2 separate regions of the Homo sapiens genome follow, and region 1 is linked to region 2. The links come from fine-mapping of genetic effects on gene expression. Tissue or cell type: testis. Region 2 holds a variant in brackets; the other region holds the start of a gene. All regions are shown on one strand. Distances are from middle to middle.

Region 1 (8,103 bases), 70 kb before region 2:
GACAAAGCAACTGCTGATTGATAAAAGGTGGAAAGTAATTAGAAAGGTAATACAGAGAACGATAATACTTTGGATACATGATGAAGTGTGATAACATCTATTTTTCTGGCTGGGGAATGAGATAAACAAATAGAGAACTGATCATGGTGCATGAAGCACCTAGAGAAAGAACATTTCAGTTGGGTGCAAAATGTAACGTTCCTTGTCTAGTTCAGAACTATGGCTACTCAAGGGGAGAAGGCAGGCAGACAAAGGACTGTCAACAGCAATGTCTCTTATTGTTCTTTGGCTACAGCTGCACTTGCATACTCATGCTGACTTCGTGCCCAAATGTTAACTAGGCCAGAACTTGATCAGACTGAAATCTGTAAAAGAAAAAAAAATCATCACAGATACCAAGAAAATGTATTTCCTTGAATCTGTTCTAACTCTGAATTTTGTTAAAAAATTAGATTTTTTTTTTTTTTTAGTGGGAGGAAAAGGAGGACAGCTCAAAACCACTTAATTCAGAATCTGCAGTGTAATTGTTATGGTAGGCTCAAATGTGATTTGAACATCCCTAGCTATGGGATTTGGTGACCAAGCTCCCAAGAGAGGATGACACAGCACAGGGAATAGCACAGGCAGCTTGCCTTGCTTTGTAGGGGGCAGAGATGTGAAAGTCCTTGTTGAGGTCAGTGGAGCTGAGAGTACTCTTCATAATTTAAATGGACACGGGTAATTTCCTTACATGTAGGCAAGCCAGCCCTAGGGATAGGAAGGAGAAAGAAAAACAGGGAGTACAGAATGCAGATGGCTGCCCTCTGCTAATTAGGCCTTACCTTTATATAGAATGCTTTTGATTTTTTCAGACACTTTCAGGTATATTAACTCATGCACAGAGGTCAAATATTATTATTATTAAACAAAGTGCAGAGAAGTATTGAGAATTAGCTCAGTTAATGAATTAGCTCAACTAGGTAATAGATGCATTAAGATTAGATGGGGACAGTCACTCTGGAATGCCAGGAAAACAAAACATTCAGAAATAAGTATAGTAACCACATTAATACAATCAAGGGAACAAGCCTTTCCTTCCAAAGTGACGGAAATTAAGTTTACTTGTTGGTGTCCTTACTTCCATATTCATTCATTTGTTCATTCATTTATCATGTATTAAATGCTTCCTACTTGCTTATCATTCTGCTCAGTGGGCCTGGGGGATGTAGAAATGAGACATTATCTCTTTTCATTTGTTGAGGCCCTACAAGGTGCCAGAACCGTTCCAGGCGTTGGGGATATAGTAATTAAAAACAAAACAAAACAAACCAAACAAGAAATGTATAAGCCAGTGTGGAGTAAGTCAATTAAAATTAACAAAGCAAAAGGAAGTAAGTCCTATAATAAAAATGCCTTGATGGATAGAGGGATGGGTAGATGACCAGTTATGTTTTAAAGCAAGTATATATATAGTACGATGTTAGTGATAGAGTCTAGGTGGTGGGTATACTGGTGTTTGCTGTAAAATCTTTCAACTGTGCTCGAAAATTTTTATGATAAAATATTATGGAATAAACACTATAGGAATGACAAGGAAGATGCAGATTTGAGAAAAGTTTATGAAAGACATGGCATTCTTTTTTTTTTTTTAAGAGACAAGTCGATAGAGGAGTGCAATGGCATGATCACAGCTGCAACCTCGAACTCCTGGGCTCAAGTGATCCTCCTGCCTCAGCCTCTGGTGTAGCTGGGACTACAGGTGTGCACTACCATGCCCAGTTAATTTTTGTACTTTTTGTGGAGATGGGGGTCTCATTATGTTGCCCAGGCTGGTCTCAAACTCCTAGCCTCAAGTGATCCTCACTCTTCTGCCTCCCAAAATGTTGGGATTACAGGCATGAGCCACCCCACTGGCCTTTGGCATTCCTTTATCCTCCTCCTCTTCTCCTTAACTACCTAATATCCCCATGCTAACCCTTAGCTGTAGGTTCAACTTCCAAATTCCAATGGGCTATAAAGAGTTCTACAAAAGTCCATGATGACTAATAAATCTATCTAGTAGAGAAAAGACCTTTTGGAGAAGAGGCTAACTCTAGGACCACCTAAAACTCACCCACTCCATAGCTATTTGGTAAGGCACCCCTTTAGGAAACTTCACCCAAATGCCTGCTTCTGGGTACCAGGTAGTGGCCACTCTCCCCATCTTTGTCTCCTGTCTGAGCTGCTACCGAGTTTGATGTTAGATGGTGACATAAAATACAGTAATTCCTAGATATATGCGGAGGGACTGGTCCCAGGACAGCCTACATGTAACCAAATCCACACATGAAGTCCCACAGTCAGTCCTGAGGAAACTGCACAAATATTGTGTTTTCCATCTGCCCTTGGTTTAAAAAAAAAGCTGCATAAAAGTGAACCTCACAGTTTGAACCAGTGTTGTTCAAGTGTCAACTTTAATTTAAAAGTGAAAAAAGTTTGTTTTCTCTGGTATCCTTTTTTTTGTTTTGTTTTGTTTTTGTTTTTGTTTTTTGACACAGGCTCTGGCTCTGCTGACCAGGCTGGAGTGCAGTGGGGAGATCATGGCTCACTGCAGCCTCGATTTCCCTGGCTTGAGAGAAAATTATTTTTTTCAAAATAATCTTCAATTTAAGGTAATTTACTAAGTTTCAAAAGATAATGCTATTGACGTAAATTCTGTTTTAGATTGTAGGCCCCATCAGCTCATTGATACTAGTCCCAAGTTCACAGGAGAAGAGACTGGAAGTTACTAGGCTAGTCCTGCCTCTCTCAGGTGTGTCCCAGCAAAACTTTTCTTTCCAGTTTCAGCGCTTTAGAAACCTTTTCTCTTCAAACACTAATACAGGGCCTAGACTGTACCAGCACTGTTCTGAGAACTTTACATACACTAATTCATTTAATTCTCACAAAAATCCTGGGATGTAATTGCCATTATTATTCCCATTTAACAGATAAGAACACTGAAGCACAGAGAGATTAAGTAACTTGCTCAGGGACCTGGATGTGAATGCAGAAATCTGGCTCCAGAGGTGGAGTCTGAAACTGCCTTTCTAAGTGACTGATTGCCAATCTCTGGAAAACCGTTCAATTGAAGATATTAATGGATCAAAATGTCAGTATGTTTTCAGATACCCTAACTCCATAGGAAGCTCAGTGTATGGGATGAGATACTGTGGTTTAGAAGGGAATTGCTTTTCCAACGGAGGGCACCCTTCAGATAAGCCCCTCAAATTGCCCTTCACTAGAGAGTCGCACGAGGACAGGCCTGCTAAAAAGGATGGCGCTGGGGGGTTTCCAAGACAGGAAATATCTAAAGCCAGCGGCTGACATATTATCTTGGCGAACGGGAGAAGGGAAAAAGAACCCTCATTTTTTGGAAACACAAGTTTTTAGCCTGGATAATGGGTAAATGACATTAACTCTTCGTTCCACACTAATCTTTCAAGCTTGTTCAAATTTTGCTTCTCAAACCTGGGCCATTCCTTCTTATCTAATCTGCCTATTATTTCCTTCAAGCTTTTTATCCCTTCTGAAAATAGGTGGTAGCATACCAAATTAAAATACAGAACAGCCTGTTTCTTTCCCCCAGGGTCCACTAGGGCGCGTCGGAGAAAGGGTTAACCGGGCGGGTGGGAGGGAAGGTCGGGCTCACACCTTTCGCAGAGACCTCGGGCGGCGGCGGGGCCCGGGAGGGGCGGAGGCTGGGGCCAGACGCCTCGCCGCCTCCGCCTCGGCGAATAGCAGCGCGCTGCCCGCCCGGATTGGAGCAGCAGCATCACGCTGACCTCTGCCTGGGATGTAAACCGGACCAGCCGCTGCGGGCAAAGGAAGGCTCTTGGCTCCTTCGGGAAACCCAGCCCCGTCACCGGGCTCCGAGCGGCTCGCAGGCGAGCGACAGCGGCCTCAGCCCCGGCAGCGCCCAGCGGCGGCTGCGGAAAGCGGAGGGAGTCCGACGCGGGCGCGGGCGGGGAGCGTGCGTCCGTTCGCACAGGCAGCGGGAGGAGGGGCGGCGCGAACCATGGCCGGGGACAGCGAGCAGACCCTGCAGAACCACCAGCAGCCCAACGGCGGCGAGCCCTTCCTTATAGGCGTCAGCGGGGGAACAGCTAGCGGCAAGGTACGGCGGGGCCCGGAGCCGCGCTCCCTTCCCGGCTTCTGTCCCTGGGCGGCGCATGTGGCCGGCGGCCGCGGGCCGTGTCAGTTGCGGCAGCCACCGCGTGGCCCGCGCGCCTCCGCTCCCGGCCGCGCTCCAGCGCCGAGTGCGCCCCGCGCGGCCTGGGGGCGCTGCGGCGGGGGCAGGCGAAGACTCGGGCCTTGGGGGTTCCGGGGGTACGCGGCCACGATCGCAGGGCGGGAGTGCTCCTCCGGCTTTTCTCCCCCCGCGTTAATAACTCGTGGCCGGGGTCCTATGGGGGAAGGGCAGGGAAGCGGATGCTTATTGTTTTGCAACTCCAGTGTCGGGGGAGAGGGCTTTCCGCAGGATCCCCCACTAACCCCCGATGGACTCCCTCAAGCCCCGGTCTGGCACAGACGTGCTCGCCCCGCGGCGCAGCCTGGTGCCGAGGGCGGAGCGAGCCGGGAAGCGCGGCCGAGAGGGCGAGGGTGGCGGGAACGCGCGAGGCGGCATCCCGGGGAAGGGGAGCCCAGTGTGGGGCTGCACGCAAGGGCTGGGGATTACAGGGGTTTCCGGGTAAAAGTCTGAGAGCCAAATAGGTGCCGTGACATCAATGAAACGATAATAGTAGGGGCTTCTGTTTTTTAAGGTTATAAGAGGAAACGTGGTCGGCTTCAATGAGAAAGTTGTACTGGCTCCAAGCTCTTCGGTGTCCAGGACGTACGCGTCTTGGATCCACGGAAGGGGGTCATCGTATGGGTGTCTGACCCTCTTAGGAGCCTGTTTCCTTTGTTTTATCCGCAAGGCAAGGAGAGACAAGGGAAATGACTTCCTAGCTTTACCCGGGGTTTTTTCTGCAGGTGGAGAAGGGTGGAGTCCTCCCAGATGGTTCTTTCTTTGCTCCCCTAACAGCCTTTAAGATGTGGCTACTTGTTTTTCCCACCGTTTAACACCCTCCAACTTCATTTGGAGCACGGGTTCCTCAAGGGATCCTGAGAGCTGGGTGCTGGGTGCTGGTTTGGAGAGGCAGGATGATGCTTCTCCCGGCTGGGGAGAGCAGAGCAGGAAGGCTGGTTGGCGCCATGAGGAAAGAGCCACGAGGTTTTAGCTCCCGAACCGACTCGTCAGTAGCCCCTCCTCCATGTTGGTTTTACATTTTTCCCTCCTGGTCTGGACTACTTTAGCGCAAGGAGCCCAGCCAGACACGGCGGCTGGCGCTGCTGGACTTCTTTATTGATGAAGTTGATCTCGTCCGTAGCTCCCGGGGTTAGGAATCGGCCTGCTTTAGGTCCTGAAGTTTCTGTTCTGTGTGCTCCCTGGTTGAAGGCTTTTAAAAAAATTTGTAATTTTTGAGTATGTTCTTTACTATGACTTATACTAGTAATTCAAAGCAAAACCAGAATGCTAGCCCTTCAGGAAGCTTTACCTGTTCTTTTAGAATTATTCTTGCTCTTCTGGCATATTCCTGTTGGATTGGGAGCATTTTTTGTTGTTGTTGTTCATGGCTGTTTTCCCAGCCCTCCTAGCACAATGCCTGCCTGGCATGTAGTGGGGTCCAAATTTTAAGCTGAAGTCCAGTCCTCCTAAAGTGGGGAGGAGGCTTAAACTTGCATATGAGCTTTTAGAAACAAAATGATCTTGGTAATCATCTGAATAATTTAGTTACCACGAGGGTGAAAACTGCGACCCTAAAAGGTGAATAACTCTGTTATTGTTCTTCTTGTGTGTTTCTCAGTCGTCACCTGTTCTAACTTGATAATCAAGCTTTTGGTGTTACTTGGGTAAAGTGAGGGATGGGATAGTGGTGAGCCAATGTGGGAGTAGCTAATTCTCTGCTATTTTTATCCAGGAGGAAGAGTGTAGAAACTCTCAAGAAAGGAAGGGTCCGTTTTTCTGCAGTTTTCAAAGCATGTTGTACATTTTTATTTATTAATTTAATTTTTGAGACAAGGTCTCGCATTTCCACCTAGCCCAGAGTAAGTGGCACTGTCACAGCTCACTGCAGCCTCAGCCTCAACCTGGAGTAACTGGGAGTACAGGCTGGCACTATCATGACTGGCTAATTTTTTTGTTTGTTTGATTTGTTTTGTTTTTGAGACAGGGTCTCACTCTTTTGCCCAGGCTGGAGTGCCGTGGTGAGATCTTGGCTTACTGTACCCTCCACCTGTTGGGCTCAAGTGATCCTCCCACTTCAGCCTCCAGAGTAGCTGAGACTACAGGCTTGCACCATCATGCCCGACTAATTTTTTTTTTTTTGTAGAGAAGGGGTTTTGCCATGTTGCCAGGCTGATCTCAAATGCCTAGACTTAAGTGATCCGCCCGCCTCTGCCTCCCAAAGTGCTGGGATTACAGGTGTGAGCCACTACCTGGGCTGGCTTTTTAATCTTTATTTTTTTTATTATTTTTTTTTTTTGAGACAGAGTCTTGCTCTGTTGCCCAGGCTGGAGTGCAGTGGCATGATCTCGGCTCACTGCAAGCTCCGCCTCCCGGGTTCATGCCATTCTTCTGCCTCAGCCTCCCAAGTAGCTGGGACTACAGGTGCCCGCCACCACGCCTGGCCAATGTTTTTGTATTTTCAGTAAACACGGAGTTTCACTGTGTTAGCCAGGATGGTCTCAATCTCCTGACCTTGTGATCCGCCCGCCTCGGCCTCCCAAAGTGCTGGGATTACAGGTGTGCGCCACCACGCCGGCAATCTTTATTTTTTGTAGAGACTAGGTCACCATGTTGCCCAAGCTTGTTTGTACATTTTTGACATACGAATGATTGATAGTTTGTCATCCTTTAAGATTATTGATATTTTTGTTATTAAAAAAGTCCAAGACTGGGCCTGGTGGCTCACACCTGTAATCCTAGCATTTTGGGAGGCAGAGACAGGAGGATTGCTTGAGCCCGGGAGTTTGAGGCCAGCCTGGGCAACATAGTGAGACCCCATCTGTATAAAATGAAAATTGTGGTGGGTCGAGAAAGTTATTTTGACCTATGTTTAAAACCAGATTCTCAGCTTGGGCAACATGGTGAGACTTGTTCTCTACAAATAATAAAATTATCCAGGTGCAGTGCTGCAGGTCTAGAGGCTGAGGTGGGAGGAATGCTTGAGTATGGGAGGTCGAGGCTGCAGTGAGCTGTGATTGTGCCACTACACTCCAGCCTGGGTGACAGAGCAAGACCTGTCTCGAACAAAAACCAAAAAAGGTTATGGCTGAGTACGGTGGCTCACACCTCTAGTCCCAGCACTTTGGGAGGCCAAGGAAGGAGGATGCCTTCAAAACCAGCCTGGGCAACAGAGAGAGACCCCGTCTCTACGAAAAATTAAAAATTAGCCATGTATGTGCCACCAGCTTCTCAGGAGGCTGAGGCAGGAGGATGGCTTGAGCCTAGGACTTGGAGGCTGCAGTGAGCTTTGATGGTGCCACTGTACTCCAGACTGGGCAACGTAGCAAGACCCCATCTCAAAAGCAAACCAAACCAGATTTTCATATTTCCCCCTAAAGGACAGGTGTAATAACACTAAAAGGTGGAAAAAAACCCAGGCTAAACTTCTTTGCCTGCATACATATCTGTGACTTTTAGGTGTCATTCTGTTTCCTTTTCATCTTTGCCTGTTCCTTGTTCTGTAACCTCTTCATTGGACAACTAAAATAGCCTCTGAAACGAGAAAAATCTGCTCCATTACACTGCCATCAGAGTGGTCTTCCTTAGGAATAGCTCTGGATGTGCCATTTTCCTTTTTGGAAACCTTGGGTAACTCCCCACTGCTCAGTACAGGTCAAACACTTCAGTACAGTACAAATCCCCTTGGCCCCTAATATGGTCCCAGGCTATTATTTTTATTTTTTATTTTATTTTTTATTGAGATGGAATCTCACTCTGTCACTCAGGCTGGAATGCAGTGGTGCCATCTTGGTTTACTGCAACCTCCACCTCCTGGGTTCAAGCAATTCTCCTGCCTCAGCCTCCTGAGTAGCTGGGATTATAGGCATGTGCCACCA
Region 2 (8,103 bases):
TGATCACCCTAGACCCATATCCACCCCTTTCCTACCTCCTTGCAAATCTTAAGGGCCACTTAATTGGACATCGAGCCATTCAGGGTTAACTGATTCCATCCCACCCATGGGCGTTTGGTACAAACAAAAATTTGTTGGGCTAAAATGAAGAAGACATTTACTTGTTGCAATTACATTTCTCTGAGCATCCTTTTCCCCATAAGCCAAATGAGATGGTTAGACTGGGTTATCTCAGATGATCTAATTGGCTAGTTTCTTTCTGGGGCTTCCCAGCCAGACTCTAAATTCCTAAGTGGTATATTATGCCAGGTATGACTCCTTGCACATTCTGGGCTAGTAGTTGCTCAATAAATTTGTTGTTGTTTTTTAAAAACTCTGAGCTGTTATGACAGTTTTTAGACCTGCGTTTGGACTTGGGAAATGATTAATTCTAACTTCTTAAGGCACCACCAACAAATTAGGCAGTTAATTTTCTCCTTCCGAAGGAAAACCACTTTTCCTTTTTAGTATTTATCAGTTAGGCATCCTAAAATGCTCTTAATATCTAGTGTCAGTACAGATTGAACATCCCTAATCTAAAAACCCAAAATGTGAAATGCTCCAAAATCTGAAACTTTTTGAGTGCCAGTGTGACGTTCAAAGGAAATGCTCATTGGAGCATTTCAGATTTTGGATTTTCATGTTAGGGAGGCTCATTGTAGATCCTCTCTCCCCCTGCCATATTAGGGATGCCCTAAATATAATGCAGATATTCCAAAATCTGAAAAAAATCCAAAATTCAAAAATTCTAAACACCTAAGCATTTCATATAAGGGATACTTAACCTGGATATGTAAACTTAGTGCAGCCATTGTGTTCTCTGTTAGTGTGTTCAAGTGGACTCTTGCACATACATTCACTTTATTTTTGGACAAAGCCTTCCCACACTCTCCTTGGTGTAGGGGAGTTGCCTAGAGAGTGGCTCACTATTTCACTTACCCATTGGTTCTGTTTTCTGAACTTCTCTAGGTTGCCTTCTTATGCACAATGACAATGGGCACACCATTTTCTGGCAGCTGACATTCCTCTAGACTGGTGCTTCTCTACCCTGGCTGCATGTTAGAAATATCTTGGGAGCTTCTAAATAGTGTTGAAGTTCTAGCTCCACTTCAGACTCATTAAATCAGAGCTCCTTGGGGGTAGGATCCAGGTAGGGATATTTTTATAAGCTTCCCAGATGGTTCTGATATGCATCTCAGATACACCACAATTCTAGGGCATTTCCTAATCCTAGTCCTTTTTTCCCGTCTTCCCTGCCCCGTTCTGCCACTTGCTAGCTACCCTAGCAGTGCCTGCCTTAAAACTCAGACACAAGCCTGTTGGTCCAAGCTGAGAAGGCATCAGGAAGTGTTTATGGGAAGGAGTTCCAACGGCACCCTCTTGAGCTGGCCGTTGATACTGACCTCCTTATGTTTGCACAGATGGAACTACTGTTTTAAGAGACTTTGTTTTATTTGGTTTGCCAGTGTGCTAGTCAGGGTGAGTGGAAACCTTGCAATGATGATTATTTCTCTATTTTCAGTGAATTTTGAGCAAGAGGCAGTTGGTGACATATAAGGTGGGCATAGGACAGAATCAAAAGACAAAACACAGTGAAAGCTGCAGCAAGGCAAAGCTGAGCACAAGCAAGGCCATCTGTGACAGCCCGTCGCCTAACCGTTTAGCAATGTTTCACCCTTCTTGCTTTTTGAAAAGTCATGTTGGTTGAGCTTGGTAGCTCATGCCTGTAATCCTAGCACTTTGGGAGGCTGAGGTGGGTGGGTTGCATGAGTCCAGGAGTTATAGACCAGCCTGGGCAATATGGTAAAACCCCGTTTCTACCAAAAATACAAAAATTAGCCTGGGGTGGTGGTGTGCATCTGTAGTCCTAGACACTTAGGGGGCTGAGGCGGGAGGATCGCCTGAGCCTGGGAAGTTGAGGCTGCAGTGAGTCCAAGATTGCGCCGCTGCACTCCAGCCTCCTGGGTGACAAAGTGAGACCCTGTCTCCAAAAACAAGAAAAAGAAAGAAAAGTCATGTTTACAATTAGTGCCTGCCCTAGGCTACCCAACCATGTGGGTTGGGTGGATGAGGTCATGCATATTTCTGCTTTATTGATAAGGAAGAGCAGCTCTAGGGAGCTCAGGATTGACCTGTGGCCACTTTGTTGGTTTGGGGTAGAGCCAGACCAGACAGACGTCGGGATTCTGTACTTCCTCACAAATGCTTTCTCGTCTGTATCCTCTTTCCCAAAACTTTTCTTTATTTTCCCTCCTTCCCTTCCCCTTCTGTCCTTTCCTCCCTCCTTTCAATTGCCTCAGGACTGGCGGGGAGGGGATGGAGTTGTTGAGAGAAAACTGTGAGTTTCTGTTTTTAAAGTTCAGAGTGTTAGGTTCCATAAATGCCAGGCCATGAGAGCATTCCTGGAGACGCCTTCAGAGAAAAAAAGAAATCACATCTGTTTTTGTCTGCCTTTATTCTTCATTCAACAGCAGGTTTTTTTAATTCCAAGGAGAAGGATGTCTGCCGTGTATTTCTGTTTCATGGTGAAAGCTCAGAAGTGGTCAAAGGAGACCTTTGTCCCGGCCGTGATCACCCTTGGCTCTTTGGTGGTGGTCCGAGGGCTCTGTAAGACCATATTAGCCAAGTCTTTAGCCCCCGCTTGAAGTCTGTGGGGGCAAGGAACCCAGAACCCAGCCCAGCCAGATGTTCTGGCCCTTGTTCTCTGTCCCTTGCTAGCCCCTGCCTGGCTTGGCCCATTATCTGCTCTGTGCTTTGCAGGAAGGAGGAGACAGTTACTGTCTATCCCGCAGACGTGGTGCTCTTTGAAGGGATCCTGGCCTTCTACTCCCAGGAGGTACGAGACCTGTTCCAGATGAAGCTTTTTGTGGATACAGATGCGGACACCCGGCTCTCACGCAGAGGTGCGTTCTAAAAGCCTCAGGTGGCCCTGTTGGTGGCCACCTTGAGGGCGGGGGAGCTGGGAGCCTGTGACAGGACCCCACCCGCCTGAGTCTGAAGCCCATGCCTTCCCTGAGGCAGCTGTGT[G/A]TCGCATGGTCCAGCCCGGCTGCGTCAGTCCAGCCCCAGGATATCCTGCTGCCCAGACACTTGGTAACATTTGAGAAGGGATTAGTCACTTACTGTTTGGGATAACGAAAGGCTTGTGAGGTCACAGAGACTAAATAAGACACTGACATCTGGTTTTGCCTGGAAAAGTTTGATTAAATGCTTAGTTCCTTGCAATTTGTTTATAAGACATCAAAATGAAGATGCTCTGATTTGGGGAACTAACTGTAGGACCCCCGAGGATAGGATCCCCTGTGCCTGAAGTACTGGGCAGCTCATCCTGTTAGCCTGCTTCTCTAGCCCTTTATTTTCCAGCAGGCTTTATGGAGGCATTATCACTCTTTCCAGTCAGCTCAGGAGGGAAGTCAGCTGTGCCCTCCGCAGGCCCTACTAAGTGTGGGCCTGCCTGTGCTAAGTCCCTGTGCTTGTGTGCTGAAGGCACAGCAGTGCCCCTTGGTAGAGGAGCCCAGCCTGTGAACTGAGCTCTACAGGGTATTCAGCAGAGAGTTCGCTTCCACCAGGAGAGATTGGGAGGCTTCATGGAGGAAGAAGGGTTGGGACTTGGATGTGGTGGGGTAGGGTGACGCTATAGGCAACCCATGAAGGTGCACGGCAGAGATGTACAGACAGTGGCTTGTTCCGAGAGTGGCAGGAACCTGGAGTGTACAGAGGGTTGTACGAAGAGACACTACAAAGTAGGTTGGGGTCTGGTTTTAGAGACTGAGATCTCTAGTCTGGTTCTCGGTGGGCAAGGGAGAGCCACTGTGAGGTTCTGAGCGAGGCAAGTGAAGTGGCCACTGTTCTGTGTTGGACACTGGTTCTGACAAAGGAAATGTAAGTGAAGCCTGTAGCTGGAGCAGCTCTTTGGAGACTGCTCTGCTGATCTAGACGAGAGGCAGGGCTGTGGTCCTTAGATGGGTGGGAGAGGGAGCAGAGTTGAGATGAGAAGAGTATTAGCAGAGTTAGAATCGACCAGGACCCAGCAAGGGCAGTGGGTGGAGGCGACTGAATAGAGGAATGAAAGGTGAGAAGGTTTGAGTCTCCGTTGTGTGACAGAGGCAGGGAGACACAGGAAATGACGAGGTTAGCTCCTAGTCACAGGACACATTATTGACAGTTTCAGATATTATAAGCTGTATCCCAGGGCCCTCTGACTTCAAAGTCTGGGTAATTTTCTCTTTTCGGTTCATGAAACAGATCTGTAGTTTATCCCATTTAGCACCGTAATTGTAAGAACTATTCATGAGACCAGTAGAACCTACAGAAACAAGTCCTGAGCTTTGCCCTTCTAAGTAGTAATAGATACATATGCTATTAAGTCAGTGGGAGCTACATCTTGCTCCCAGGTGGGGTGAGGGACAGTTAGTTTTGTGTGATGGAAAAAAGAATGGAATGGGAGGAGACTTTTAGTTCTAGCAGAGCCCTTCCCAGCTAGCTTTGTGACTAGGCTCTTGCGACACCCCGGCTTGGGTTTCTTTATGGATAATACAGGGGAGACAGGCCTGCTTTTAGTGTCACGACTCTGGCTGGGTAAGAGTTGCATGGTCATTTTGGATAGATAATTGAACCCTGAGCCTGACAACCCCTCATGCTTCTGCCCCAGGGCCTGGCTTGTCACCTTAATCCACAAACTCCGGCCCTGCTTTGGTTGATCTGCTCAGTGTCCATGTCAGCTTGTCAAATTAGAGAGGCAGTGTGATACACAGGGACAGATAAATTTTAGAGTCCAGCGAATTGGGCTGAGATCCTGGTTTTACCACTTACTAGATGTGTGGCAAATTGTGCAAATTGGCAAATTGTGTTTTAACTTTTTTGTATCTCATTTTCCTATTAGAATGTGGTCTTATGATTGGTACTTCTGGGATAGTTGTGAAGATGAGAGGTAGTGCAGGTAAAATGCCTGGTGGTGCATTAGTCAATAAATATCTATGTGGCAGATCAGAAATCTGCTTCTGCTGAAGGGGTCGGTGCTGTTCGTTTTCTGAATTTTCTGACAAGACTGGTTAGATCCTCCAAGGGGATCTGCTCCGGTCATGTCCTCAGGAGCTAGTGATGCCCGGACTGATGCCATCACTAGTCCAGCAGTGGTACTCAGTCTCAGGGATGCAGTGCTGCCGAGGGAGGCCTCGCAGCAGGGAGTGCAGGAACCAGCACAGGAGATTAGAACCAAGTTTTGAGCAGCAGCAAGACGCTGGAAATAAAGTGCATCCTAGTGTCTAATTCAAACAGATCATCACGGTGTGGTTTCAACAGAACATTTTCCCTTCCTTTCTTGCATGGGATTCTTATGTGAAATAGGAGCAATTCCTACAATGGTGCTGGCCCTCTGGGGGTTTCTTAGGGCCAGCTCTGCCTCTCCGCCTTCTCTGAACAGGCTGCCTGGGCAGGGCTCTGCTTTCTCATTTCAGATCTGCTAACTTCACATGTCACCTACTGCCGAGTCACTTTCCTGATGGATTCATGGGACTTTTCTGCATGCTATTTCTACAAATTCATTCTCTCTCCACGTAGGACAAAAAACATGCTTGGCATGTGCTTTGTGGAGTGCGGGGGTGCTGGGGTAGGGAGGCTGGTTAGTCAGAAGCAGCTGTTGAGTGAGCTTGAACATTCCTGGAGACTTGAGTTAGCTCCATGATTTTACCCATCTGTCACACCCTCCTGGGCATGTGACCTCCAGATTCTGAGTTGACCCTCATGTGGGAGAGAGATCTGTGTTTGAGTGAAGCAGCCCTGGAAACTACCTCCTTCCTGATGGAAACCCTTGATCTTCTCGGGATTGGTTTCTAGCCTCATTTGCCTTCATATTCCCTCTGTGCTCTTTACCACCACCCAGCTCTGAATACGGGGACAGGGAGGAGGTGGGGCAGGGAGATTCAGGATGGCTGACCCCTCATCTTCCTCATCCATCATTCTCTGGTTCTCATAGAATTAGGGCTGCACTGGGCCTTGGGGGATTCAGCCCATTCTTTTACTATAGAGTAGCACATTTCCTCATCAGATTTTTAAAGTGATTGACTTCACCATTGAGGAATTATCTTTATTTTGGGTCCCTCTAAGTTTCTTTCTTGGCTTTTGGCTAACCAGAAAGAGCAAGTCTGGGTTTGGAAGGGCTGACGTGGAAGCCCAGCAGGGAATGTGGGCAGACTTGTAGCTTCCTGCCCTGTACCCTGTCCTCTGAAAAGGCCTGTCCTGGCCCAGCAAATGTGCTGGGGTCAGAGCAGTGATGGAGGGGCTGGTTTTGAGCCCCTGGGGTTTCCAGGTTGTGCCAAGACCTTGTTTGGACTCAGTCCTTGGCGCGGCCCTGTTTCCTGACTCTGCCTGAGGAGAAGGGCCTTTCAGTGCAGGGAACTGGCTGGCCCTCTGTTGTCCTTGGCTCAGGGAGGCACAGTCTGCCTGAGGTGATAGTTCTATCGGAGGTTCTTGGGGAGCAGAGGTGGGCAAGGCCTTATGATGTTGCATGTTCCCAGTGTCTGGGCAACATTCTGACCCATTCCCCATTTGCTTTTCCAGCGTGGAAGCTGTAGTGGGACTATTCCCTATCTTCCTTGCTTTTTTTCCTTCCTCACGTATGTTGTCCTATGTGCTTGTGTCCTGCTCTCCCTTCCCGCGTGGCAACCTGCCTTTCCAGCTGCCCTGCGGGACTCCTTTTTCCCTTTGCTGCCCCCGCTCAGCTGGGTCTGACCTGCTTACCTGAATTCGAGGTTCCCGCGCTCCCACGGTGTTGAGCTGCTCTGTCAGGGAGGCACTGCCCTCCCAACGCGTCCTCAGGTTCTGTTGTGGTCGTAATCATCATAGAACACATGCTTATTGAACATGTGCTAAGGTGCCAGCTATGGTGCTGAAGAGTTTTATGCACATCTCTGTATTCCTGAATAGTAACTGTATGAGGAAGGTACCATTATTGTCCCTGTTTTATAGTTAAGGAACTTAAGATTCAAAGAGGTTAAAGTCACTTGTCGAAGTTCACAGAGGTAGGAGTTATTGGGGTTAGGATTCAGGTCCAGGGCAGTTTTCCCCCCAGAGCCCATAGAGGTAGAACAAGAAGCAGCTTTTGGGCTACAGAGCAGCTTCACTGTGATTTACCTCCTCCTCCTACTTTCTGCACGACCAGTTTCCTCTCTCCAGTGACAAAACAGCTGAAGCCACCAGATCTACAGAAGGAAGGGGGCTGAAGGCCCAGGCTGAGGGCAGTTAGGAGGACTACGTGACAGGGTGTGGACGTGCACTGTGTGTGCGTGCGTGCGTTTGTGTGCATGTGTGTTTGTGTGTGTGCACGTGTGTGTGTGTGTGTGCTGGGAGAAGGACAAAGCTTCCTCCAGTGCTAAAGCCTTCAGCAATTGTATGAAAAGCATGTGTTGCAAAACAATCCAGCATCAGGCGTTTGCAGGGCTTTAAGTAAAAGCTGCCCAAGCACGGGTGTGTTTGTTTTTTCCCTAGCTCTGATACCCTTTTGATCTGGTTTCCTTTTTTCTTTGGGCTTTATCTGGAGACGTGTGAAGAATTGGAGGCCGCGCTGGCTGTGTGTTTTGGCGGTGCTACTCTGGTTAGCCATGTGTGCCGGAGCTCTGGGGACTTCTGGGGGGTGAGCCACGTGGCAGCTCCTTAGGGCTCCTTCTTAGCGAGTCTCCCAGCAGATCTGCCAGAGCAGCAGGTCGGCAGCAGGAGCCCAGGTCCAGCGTTGCAGGGGTGGGGAAAACCATTTCCTGGCTGGAGAAGGCTGCTGCTGGGCTGGGTGGGCAAGTCCTGACACATTAGCGATCAGCCAACTGTTTTATTACCAGGTCTCCCATGGAGAAAACACTTCGTAAATCGAGGAGCTGTTACAAAAGTCGAATGGCAGCATCATTAGTGCCCAGCTTTCTGGAAATGTGGATTTCCTGACAGTTTTCTCACCTTCTCATCTTATAGATTTCCTGTCAGCCTGGATCATAGCCATGACAGCCTCCCCGTTCCCTGGCCTCTCTGTGCATGCACCTGTGCATGTGTGTATAAAGACAGAATTATTTAGACAAATGGCTT

Which allele goes with the higher level. Alleles are on the strand shown, and positions count from the first base shown. SD is a standard deviation of normalised expression in the study named.
For the expression in testis of the gene that starts at base 3,796 in region 1, allele A in region 2 goes with a higher level than allele G (moderate effect, 0.58 SD a copy in GTEx).

Evidence for each region. PIP is the estimated chance that this variant, and not a neighbour inherited with it, causes the effect.
Region 1: it holds the start of UCK2, and the variant in region 2 is fine-mapped to the expression of UCK2 in testis (GTEx, PIP above 0.99).

The regions. Positions count from the first base shown.
Region 1 is chr1:165,823,819-165,831,921 of GRCh38, forward strand. It overlaps UCK2 (uridine-cytidine kinase 2), which reads left to right and starts at 3,796. Exons shown (of 7, transcript NM_012474.5): 1 at 3,796-4,114. The coding sequence starts at 4,016. RefSeq lists silencers at 3,585-3,834, 3,915-4,394, 4,455-4,684 and an enhancer at 4,150-4,703.
Region 2 is chr1:165,893,391-165,901,493 of GRCh38, forward strand. It overlaps UCK2 (uridine-cytidine kinase 2), which reads left to right. Exons shown (of 7, transcript NM_012474.5): 4 at 2,800-2,942. Among named protein-coding and RNA genes, the nearest start is that of MIR3658, 10 kb to the right of the region's middle. RefSeq lists an enhancer at 5,131-6,330 and a silencer at 7,302-7,596. The variant G/A (reference allele first, on the strand shown) is at 3,067.